Linked DNA regions of Homo sapiens: all the other regions are linked to region 1. Evidence: fine-mapped expression QTL. A gene starts in region 1. Each other region holds a variant in brackets. All regions are shown on one strand. Distances are between the middles of the regions.

The links. PIP is the estimated chance that this variant, and not a neighbour inherited with it, causes the effect.
Region 2: its variant is the best candidate, but not a certain one, in a credible set for the expression of HMBOX1 in monocytes (CEDAR, PIP 0.60).
Region 3: its variant is the best candidate, but not a certain one, in a credible set for the expression of HMBOX1 in lung (TOPMed, PIP 0.83).
Region 4: its variant is the best candidate, but not a certain one, in a credible set for the expression of HMBOX1 in monocytes after LPS (Fairfax 2014, PIP 0.59).

The regions. Positions count from the first base shown.
Region 1 is chr8:28,889,071-28,891,758 of GRCh38, reverse strand. It overlaps HMBOX1 (homeobox containing 1), which reads right to left and starts at 1,364. Exons shown (of 10, transcript NM_001135726.3): 1 at 1,081-1,364. It overlaps INTS9 (integrator complex subunit 9), which reads left to right and starts at 1,790. Exons shown (of 17, transcript NM_018250.4): 1 at 1,790-1,885. The coding sequence starts at 1,877. RefSeq lists a silencer at 1,122-1,241 and enhancers at 894-1,450, 1,612-1,811, 1,451-2,007.
Region 2 is chr8:29,050,315-29,053,002 of GRCh38, reverse strand. HMBOX1 (homeobox containing 1) reads right to left here. Exons shown (of 10, transcript NM_001135726.3): 10 at 1-1,985. The coding sequence ends at 1,848. Among named protein-coding and RNA genes, the nearest start is that of HMBOX1, 160 kb to the right of the region's middle. The variant TTTTTTTTA/A (reference allele first, on the strand shown) is at 1,097.
Region 3 is chr8:29,170,272-29,172,959 of GRCh38, reverse strand. The region is part of intron 10 of KIF13B (kinesin family member 13B); the gene reads left to right. Among named protein-coding and RNA genes, the nearest start is that of KIF13B, 91 kb to the left of the region's middle. The variant A/G (reference allele first, on the strand shown) is at 1,231.
Region 4 is chr8:29,046,316-29,049,003 of GRCh38, reverse strand. It overlaps HMBOX1 (homeobox containing 1), which reads right to left. Exons shown (of 10, transcript NM_001135726.3): 8 at 1,551-1,646; 9 at 1-50. It also overlaps the pseudogene RNA5SP260. Among named protein-coding and RNA genes, the nearest start is that of HMBOX1, 160 kb to the right of the region's middle. The variant AG/G (reference allele first, on the strand shown) is at 1,439.

The DNA.
Region 1 (2,688 bases):
TTTCAGGCAAATGCAAGACAGAACAGGGTGGAGTAGAAGAAAAATACAAGCAGCGCCTTTCGGCGCACCCCCTCTCCCGCAAATAATTTCCAACAGTTCCTCCTGCTACGAAAATAAGTCGCCCTATCTCCAGATACATAACAGACATTCCGTCTCCTTAGTAGACACACACAGACGCGTACACAATCCAGCACTCCCGACCCCCACCCCAGGCCCCCCGAATCTTCAGCAATTATTCATCTAATTCACACGAAGACAAGATACCTCTACCTACTGTTTCGGGGTGAAGGTGGGTGGAGGACGCCTTTCAAAGTAGCCCCAATAGTGTAACCAAAACACGGTTCCGGAATAAAATATTAAGAAACACTTTTCCTTTCCCACCTATCTACCGACTTGAGGATGCAAAAAATCCATCTCCACATCACACCATCTCTACAGTTCTCGTGGCTGGAGTTTGGGGTGGAGATTCGTCCAGGGGAGGGGGCGGAGGCGAGTGGCAGAGTGTGAGCGGGCGACGGGACACAAGCGAGTTGTTGAGCCCGGCCGCCTCGCACCACGTCGCCAGCCCAAACGCCCAGCACCAGGACCTCACGCCCGCCCCTCAGCCCAGGCCCAGAGCGAGCGAGGACTCGCGCTGTCTAACTTCCCATCTACAGACACCGCTCCAAGACGAGCAGAGCACACAAGTACACGTCACACAGTTTAAACACACTTACACACCCCAAACAAACCAACACACCTGCAAATCACCTCACAGTTTCCAGAACTCCACACCGGAGACCCCACCTCCAGGATTCAAACCTTCCGCTCATCGTAGAGGAAACCAGAAGAGTTGGGGGGCAGTCGACGCCTTTCCAGGACCGGACCCCACGAACTGCCCCACCCCACAGCCCGCGTCTGGGTCACCCACTCGGAAGCCCCCTGCTTCCTCCCTCCTCTCAATCCGGCCGCTTACGAGACCCATCCCCAGCGTCCGCTCACTTCCTCCCCAAAACCCCTCCAAAAAAATTGTTTTAAGTGAAGAGAAAGAAGTGAGGAAAGAGACTTGAGGTAGTCCGGCTTCAAAACCGCTCGACTCACCTCAGAATCCTCGCTGAGTTCTCTCCGCCCGGCACAGCCCCCTCCCCAACGTCCCAGTACGAAGGGCTGAGATAGGGAGGAGGGAAGGCGGGAGGGGGAGGGGTGTCTTCCGCGTGGGGCGCCCGTCGGGAGGGGACTGGGGAGGGGTTGAGGCCGGCGCAGGAAGAGGAGAAGGGGGAGGGGAGGCCCCTATCTCCCAGTCTCCCCCTGAAAAACCTCCCTTGTCTCAATCACATCAGACTGACTGTCTTTGTCTGGCTGACAACCGCCATATTGATATCAACAGCCCCTCTCCCACCTGCTGCCGCCGGGCGTCCCTGGGAGTTGTAGTTCCTGCCTCCCCTGAGAAAAATTGCGGAGCCCGGCGCCTAGAGGGCCAAGGGAACTACAACTTCCGGCAAGCCCCGTGCCCATCCGCCTTCCCTTTGGGAGGAGGGAAAGGGGAGTCGGAGCCGTCGGGACTACACATCCCAGAACACCATGGGCCCCAGGCCCGTAAGGAAGACATGATATCATGCTGGGGTGGAGAGGGAGGATGCATTGGCGGCTGGGATGAATTTGAGCTGACGGAAGGAGGCGTTCGGAGAGGAAAGGGAGGAAAAGGAAAGGCGACCACAGTTCCCATGATGCCTGGAGGGGAGACTACATTTCCCATTATTCCCCTGGAAGGGACGTGAGGATGAAAGACTGCAAGTCCCGCGATGCTCTCGGCTGGCAGGTGGCGGAGATTGCACCGGAAGACGCTTCCTGGGTTTGAGGAGTTCAGTGACTGCTATTGAACCACCAAAAGTCCATTATGAAACTGGTGAGTCTTCGCTCCTAGGTCAGAGGGCAAAGGTGATGCTATAACCTTTTGGACCTCTTTTTTTCCTACGTTGGGCAGGGAATCGTCGCACGGGAGGGGTAGCAATTATTGAGCTGGAAAGTGGAGTGGGCTAAGGAAAGCTGCTTTTTGTTGTTGAGAAGGTTTGAATTCCCTCTCCCCCACCCCATCCCTCCCAGGAGGTCTTTTTTCACTCGTTAGTGGGTCTTTTTGTTCAGACAAGAGGTTGACTGTCACAGTCCTTCGCCCATGAACTCTGTGGGCTCTGTTAACCAGGTTTGGACGTCCTGGTTCCCACGTGAGGGTTATAATAGGCTGTTAACAATCCGTTTCCATTCGATTGGCGCTTGAGTATCCTGTCTCCCTACTGTTGTTGAGACTGGCTAGATTTAAGCAGACAGTAAAAAACATCCAGCAGAACGTAATCACTTATTAAATATCCTGTTATATAGACTCCTCACTGCCCTTGGAATTCAGGACGAGGTCAGAGTGTGGAGAAGTTGAGTCTTAAACCCTGCATGGGATTTAGATGGGCAGAGAAGTGTTATATGGTATTCCATTCTAAGACTGTAGGGACTTCATGAGCCAAGGCTGAATGAAGCGTGCTCGGTATACCTGAAGTCTTAACATCACACAGCTCAAGCACCTGGTTCATGGAGGCTCCTCAGACCTTTGATTTGAGCCATTTGACTCATTGTGCACACAAGTCTAACTAGTTTATTCCAACTCGATTCAATTAGTTAATAACATAGTGTAGAAAGGCAGGTGTGAAACACTGTTTCTCA
Region 2 (2,688 bases), 160 kb before region 1:
GAGGAAGGTCATTCAGTCTCTCTCTCTCACAGTTTTAAGTTGAATACATTTGGTGGAGGAGGATGGGTGAAGAGGTAAGGAAATGGCACCTTCCTTTTATCTTAGAAATTGTTTTCAGGTAACGGACAAAAAGAAGCCGTGCTTAACATCCAGCCCCACATGCCCCTTTAAACAAGGCTTCATTATACATAGGAGAGATGGAGCGAGGCAGAAAATCCACAGCAGTTGTGCCTCTTTCAGGCGCACCCTGTGCTGCTACATTGAAGGCTCTTTCCTCTTACCCACAGTGACAGTGTGTCATTTAATCGGGATGCCAAGAGATCATTTTCATACAAGGCCAGCAGATGTAATTTTCTTTGATGCATGAATAGTTCATCATTTTGCTACTAGATGACAAGGTGATCACAGGGTGACTTTAGAATGCAAGTTCACTGTTTGGTATTTTGAGTTCTCAAAATGAAAAAAAGATTTATCAAATATAAATATCTTTAAAAAGTAACAAAAGTGCTACATATGTGATCAAGGAAAAAAATTCCATTAGTTACTGCCGCTTAAAGTAGATTAAACTTTACAAATATTACCACATCCATTATCAATATGGCTTCCAATTATTAAATAAATTGCCTGTAGCAATACAGCTTTTCACACCTCTCCAAGGACAGAGTAAAGAGAACAGCAAAGCAGTCCCATCGTGTTCTCATACAGCCACAATGTGAGTAGGAAACGTCCCCTGCTTTTCTCTGCTCCTATCTGGGCAAGTGTCTGCATCTGTGATAAGCAGCACAACCCCACTATGAAGTCCTCTAGTGACCTCTCAGAGTGAGGGGGCTTCCGTTTAATGGATACAAACACTGCAAGTTTTTTCACTCATTTTTGACCTTAGCTCCATCCTTGAAAGACTTTTTTGGTAGCAGGGAAAGGGGACACTGACAGGAGGCAAAGCAACTTCCACGATGACCTCCAAAACTTTTCCAGGCAGGCACTGCTAACTGTGCCGTGGAATGTACAGTGGTTCTGAAAACTGGACTTAGCATCCATTAGACATTCAGCTCATATTTTTTTTTTCCAATGCTCTCAAGCTGGGTTTTTTTTTTTT[TTTTTTTTA/A]ATGACTTTTGGTTTTTGTCTTTGTTTTTAATCATGGTCCCAAAGGCAGAAGGCAGTATTTTATCTACTAAGTCACACAGCTTGTGAGAGGAAAGGATGTCTGTGTCAGGCATGTTAACTTCAAACAAAATCTGAGATCGGCTTTTTCCATTGACATTCTTAGCACAGCACCCAAAGAAGTATAATCTAGCCACAGTGTGGCTATAATGAGGCACGGCTTATTGCAGCTGGAAATCAATTATCCTCACGCTGAGGTGGGGATTCTAGTGTTCCTTTGACTCTGTGGATACTCCCCAAATGGTGTCTGTCATTCCTGTGCCACGACCTCAGCTTGCATCCTATCAGTCTTGGGGAAGGAAAAGGGAGTACAGACTAGTGTTACAAGAATCTAAAGGTACCCAAGATTTTACACGTAGTCTAATATTTGAGAACTGAGGGCTATCTAAATACCTGGAAGCACTTTCTTGGAATGCTAAGACGGAGCAGCAAGATTTTCTAGCCTCGGGGGCTGGGAGAGGGAAGTTTGGTTGGTTGGTTGGTTATTATTTACTGGGAGTTAATACTGAGAGAGTATATGCAAAGGCTGAGGGCACCATGCCATCTTCACAGAACAAGACCCTAACAGCTACCTGACATACAAGAAACTGCAAGTTATACTGTAAGAACACATGTTAAGGACCGAGGAAAGTCTGCTAAGGTGCTACGTCTAAACTAAGTTAACTTGTCATGTTTAACCTCCCTGATCAGTCATCATCCAGGGCCTCTGTCTTGATTTCGTTGGCTCCTTGTCGGGCCAATGCCAAGATAGTGTGGTTGACTGCTGCCATTTCCACAGCTAATGAGATGGGGTCTTGGTGGTCACTATGGCTCGTACTGTCATCCTAGATGTGCAGAAATAAGAAATGTTATTAGTGGATTGGAAGAATTCTTTAGTCACAGAGAGACATGCTGGGGCAAGGGGAGGCAGAACATTCGTGGGAGGAAACTGGGGGAGGGGCTCATGATAAAATAGAGGTAAATTGTATTTAAGTAGACACTGAATGGATATAGGTCCAAAGATTTTCAGTTGATAATCTTATGATTCAACAAGTAAAAAGCACAAAAAATGTTTTTCATCACTGAGAATTCTATTCATTCTATTAATAAGATTGCTGGTGATGATGATCAAACCTGCAGTGATTGATATAAAACCAACAATTTGGATCTTTCTGTTTGTAACAAATATAGCACTAATCACTGAAGGCCATACTAGTGAGCTATTAAATTCCAGATTGCTGCTCTTACAAATAGATTATTAGAATTCATGGTCCCTCTCTGAACTGAGAAAACTAGACAGAACTTACAATTACATCTTACAGATAAAAAATGCATTTTTGTAAAAAAAGAAAAAAAGAATTCTCCATTACAACAGGACACATGTCACTGCCAGAAACGGCTACGGGAGAAAGGGGAGGAAGGTGTCGAGCTCTCCTGCTGCAGGCAGCTGTGCAAGGGGAGCGGCAGGCGTCTTACCTAGAACTAGTGTGAAGCTGTCCTCCCCGCGCAGCTCAATGTGTTAAACAATAAAGCTGTGAAGGAAGCTGG
Region 3 (2,688 bases), 280 kb before region 1:
CTGGTGACAGAGTAAGACAACCCTCTCAAAAAAAAAAAAAAGCACCAAAAAACAAGAAATATCTTTTGTTAACTTAATCGACATAGTGAAAATGGCACGGGTAATCACTGAGTGGCTTCATTGGCCTGGAGGCCAGGAGCACCTGTTGCAGGAGTATCTGGTGCCATGCCAAGGGCTTCATGGGTATCGTCTCCTTTCCTTCTCAGAAGGGAAAGGGTGGTGTTCCCAGTGGTCAGATGACACAGAGGGTGCAGAACTAATGAATGGCAGGATCGGGATTGGAATCATCGCTGACTTGACTGTGCAGCTGTTTTTGCCAAGGCTGTGCTCTTCTTATCAAAGGTTAATTTTCATTAGAAGGATACTCACTTCATATTACCAGTCCTTGATAGAAAATAATGAAAAAAACTGTTCATAGTACTTGAACTTGAAGAATGAAACCATAACATTTTTTAAAAGGTCACTTAATCTGCTGTTTAGTTAATTTAGGTTATCATTGCAACTTTCATGTATTAAAAATAACTCATGTGTTTGCTGAATATTTGTCATTATCTTTTTCCTTAAAAATGTATGTGATTGGCTGGGCATGGTGGCTCACACCTGTAATCCCTGCACTCTGGGAGGCCGAGGCAGGCGGATCGCCAGGTCAGGAGATCGAGACCATCCTGGCTAACATGGTGAAACCTTGTCTCTACTAAAAAATACAAAAAAATTAGCCAGGCGTGGTGGCGGGCGCCTGTAGTTCCAGCTACTCGGGAGGCTGAGGCAGGAGAATGGTGTGAACCTGGGAGGAGGAGCTTGCAGTGAGCCGAGATCACGCCACTGCACTCCAGCCTGGGCGACGGAGTGAGACTCCATCTCAAAAAAAAAAAAAAAAGAAAAGAAAATATATGTGATCTGGCTGGGCATGGGGCTCACTGAGGCCTGTAATCCTAGCACTTTGGGGGGCCGAGGTGGACAGATCACCTGAGGCCAGGAGTTTGAGACCAGCCTGGCCAACATGGTGAAACCCCATCTCTACTAAAAATACAGAAATGAGCTGGGAGTAGTGGTGTGCACCTGTAATCCCAGTTACCTGGGAGGCTGAGGCAGGAGAATCGATTGTACCCAGGAGGTAGAGGTTGCAGTGAGCCAAGACCATGCCACTGCACTCCAGCCTGGGCGACAGAGTGAGACTCCATCTCAAAAAAAAAAAAAAAAGAAGAAAAAAAAATTATATGATTTTTTTTA[A/G]CGTCATTTGGACTTCACAGAAGATCGTAAATAGGGGCATTTTTTTTTTTTTTCGCAAAACATGTTCCAGAGCTTAAGCAGTTTTCCCAGAGCTCTCTCCAAATTGGTTGAAATGGAGATCCTTTTCCTTTAAAGTGGGTTTTAGGTCCCTGTTGCTTTTTCCTTCTTAAATTCTTAGTCTGACTCACCCAGATCCTAGTTTGACATGGGCATACTTCCAGTATTCTTCAACATAATTTCCATTGAACTTGTACAATTGCCCATCTTCTATAACATTTTCAGTTTCACAGCGTCTTTTTTTTTCTGCCTCATATTTGCGTTGTAATTGTGTTGTGCTCTTAATGTGTGTAACATCTGAGAATGAGAGAAGCTGTGGCTTTTCTTGGTGATTTGGTCCAGAATAGATGTGAGTGCTCTTCTCCCAGGGAGGATGGAACAACCATTAAATGAGGGTTACGCATTCGCTGAGTCATCACTGGAGAACTATTTCATATTAAGATGATTTTTGGTCCTCTGAATAACCATCTAAATGTGGGCCTCTTAACGTGAAGTAACTTCTGGTAGTGAGTGCTCAGATAATGAGTATCTTTCTAATTCATCTCCCTCTTTTCGTTCCTACTGCCACCTCCCTAATGAAGGCCACTTTTCATCTGTCGCCTGGATGACAGTCGTTTCCCTCGAGCTTTCTTAGTCCAGTCCTTTCTCCATGGTTAGGTTGCAACATCTTTCTACATTAATACTTTTAACCTTCAGTCTTTTCAGTAACTGTCTATAGGCCCTTAGGATAAAGTCCAAGTTCCTTTTTTTTCTTTTTTGTATAAACAGGGTCTCACTATGTTGGCCAGGCTGGTGTTGAACTTCTGGACTCAAGTGATCCTCCTGCCTTGGCCTCCCAAAGTGTTGGGATTACAGGCGTGAGCCGCTGCGCCCAGCCACAGAGTCCAAATTCTTTAATGGCGTGTGACTTACAAGGTCCTTTATGAGCTGACCCCTTTTACTTTTTTTATTGTTCATCTTGTGCTTCTTGGTGTTACAAATTCCAGCTAAGTGATGAGTGTTGTCTTGCCTCTAGGACTTTACTCTTGTTCCACTTGGAACATGCTTTCCCCTCCCATCTCTTCAGTCTCTCCTCCCTCCTCTCCCCTCTCCCTTTACCTGGGTGATGCTTCTCTATCTTTGGGTCTCAAGTGTCACTTTCTGTGAGAGTCTTCCTTAACCTTTCAAGATTTGGCTCTCTGCTGTTTGTTTTAGACCATATTGTATTTATCTCTATCATCTTAGTCCTTGTTATATAGTATTACTTACCAGCATCCTCCCTAGTGGTGAACTCCAGGAAGAGTCGAGTGAATGAGTAATTTCAGCTCTGTTCTGAATCAGCTCTGTGACCTTTGAAAAGTCTGTCGTTTTCCTGGGTCTCACTTTCTCATCTGTAAAATGAAATAATTGGATTATATGTCT
Region 4 (2,688 bases), 160 kb before region 1:
GCCTCCTGGACTCTGCACATCTATCCCATGACTCTCCAGGATTGCTGCTTCTTCGAAAAAAGCAAATAGATCCCTAAATTATCTGTTACCTTATCACAATGGCTGAAACACTGAATGAATTTTTGTGCTAAGGAAATTAATTAGAATGTAATTAAACAAGAACCTGTATTTCTCTACATTTGTTTCTTTTAGACTGTAAGATGGATGAAATTCAACTGCATGTAGGTCAGGGGAGGCACACATTTGCCATTCTGGGGTCTCTGCTGCTGTGCATGTTAGGTGCTTCATAAATACTTGCTAACTAACTAAACAGTCTTCCTATCTTGGGGTTCTATAGAGCATATGAGAACTGTACTGATGAATAAAAAGTGTATTTACAAAGGAAGGAAATGAAATGCATTCTATGCCCATACCACGCTCAATGCGCCCGATCTCGTCTGATCTTGGAAGCTAAGCAGGGTCAGGCCTGGTTAGTACTTGGATGGAAGAAATGAAATGCAATTTTAGAAGCTAAAAACCAACATCCCACCTGACTCACCAACTTAAATTTCTTATTCTTATTTATTACTGTTACAGTTTTGAATGGGAACAAATCCTTTATTTCTTCCTTTTTCAGTTGTATTCGTAGTTCCCTCTAGGGCACTTTTGGCATTTTTGTTTTCTCTGTTCAGCTTTATTGAAATATAATTAATAAAAATTGTATATATTTATGGTGTACAAGGTGATGTTTTGATATGTGTATATATACATAAATGATTACATCAAGAATCCATATTTCTTAAATGCTCTTTATCTCTGCCTTTTGCTGCGTTCCTTGTCTATTAAGTCTCTTTCATTCCAAACCATTAATCAATTGTTTCCTAATATTTAAGTCATAGTCCAGTAATAATGAAGAAATTCTGGGTATTACATTCCCTTTCTCAAGATCTTACAAGTATCTTTCAAATGTACCACAGGAGTAATCAATTGCTCAGGGGCCATGTCTAATTCTATATTCTAGAACTTTAAGAAGAATGAGTTTTATAAATAATAATGTCATTACCATTACACTACAAATAGTGTAAATAATACTAACTGTGGTTTATTAAAAACACAATGAAAGACATTAGGGCAACTTTTGTTAGGCTTAGAAGTTAGGATCCGGCACGGTGGCTCACACCTGTAATCCCAGCATTTTGGGAGGCCGAGGCGGACGGATCACCTGAGGTCGGGAGTTCGAGACCAGCCTGACCAACATAGAGACACCCCATCTCTACTAAAAATACAAAATTAGCCAGGTGTGGTGGCACATGCCTATAATCCCAGCTACTCGGGAGGCTGAGGCAGGAGAACCACTTGAACCCAGGAGGCAGAGGTTGCAGTCAGCCAACATCGCGCCACTGCACTCCAGCCTGGGCAACAAGAGTGAAACTCCGTCTCAAAAAAAAAAAAAAAAAAA[AG/G]AGAAGTTAGGATCCTTTAGACTTGCAGTTTCTAAACTGAAGTTAATCTTAATATAAACATGACGTTCACAACTGCTGCACAAGAGAAAAGCAGCCTCACTGATACATTACCAATATTGGCTCTCCTCTTGATCTCCTTCCTTCTGTTAGCAAACCAATTATATACTTTCAGGGAGGTAACTCTTTCCAGATCTGACAGCTTTTTGCCTGTGAATACATGCAATAAAATTCAGATAATCTATATCTGGGATCCAAGAATAAACTAGTTTTAAGGGCTAATATTTTTATTTTGTTGCTTTTGATTACGTTTATTGCCAAAACTACAGATGCAGAGGGATTTTTAAAGTATTACCTGGTACCATGTACACACCCCAATTACTGAATGAATAAATATGTAAATGAATACAAAAACAACAACTAGTAACACAACATGCTTCAATTCGGAAAGCCATACATAATATTAGAGAATTCCACAAAGTCAGTTGGCTAGGGTGTCAGATCCACGTCCATGTGACAGTACTATGGGGGCTTCATTTAATTACCATTATTGTATCAGAATAAGATATTCTTTTTTTATTTTTTTGAGAAAGGGTCTCATTCTCTTACCCAGGCTGGAATGCGGTGGTGCAATTATAGCTCACTGCAGCCTTGACCTCCTGGGCTCAAGTGCTCCTCCCACCTCAGCCCCCCAGGTAGCTGGGACTACAGGCCCAGGCCACCATACCAGGCTAACTTTTGTGGTTTTTGTAGAGATGGGGTCTCGCCATTGTTGCCCAGGGTAGCCTCCAACTCCTGGGCTCAGGCGATCTGCCCACCTTGGCCTCCCAAAATATTGGGATTACAAGCGTGAGCCACCACAACAACCCAAGATAAGTTATTCTTTATCAAGTATCCAGACAACAGAAATTTACTTACATCTTTAAGGCCTTATGTTAACTAATTACCTGCTGTCTTAGGACAGAGGATATTATACATGTTTTCTTGAAGGCTGAAGGCCGCTATGACTATCCATTACTGTAACTGGTTTGGACTACATAGCACAATTCAAGTTGCATTTTAGATTTACCATCTTTGAAGTCCAATGTGATTTTTTATGGATAGTAACCATGCTTGCCAATACAGACCCCCCTGTAACATTTCCTCCTCACCTTTCCTTTTGTTTTTCGGCTATTAATCCACAGTGGGTGAAGAAACCAGAAAGCAGGTTTGTTAGGGCCTTGATGATACGGGGGCAAAATGTTCCAGGGAG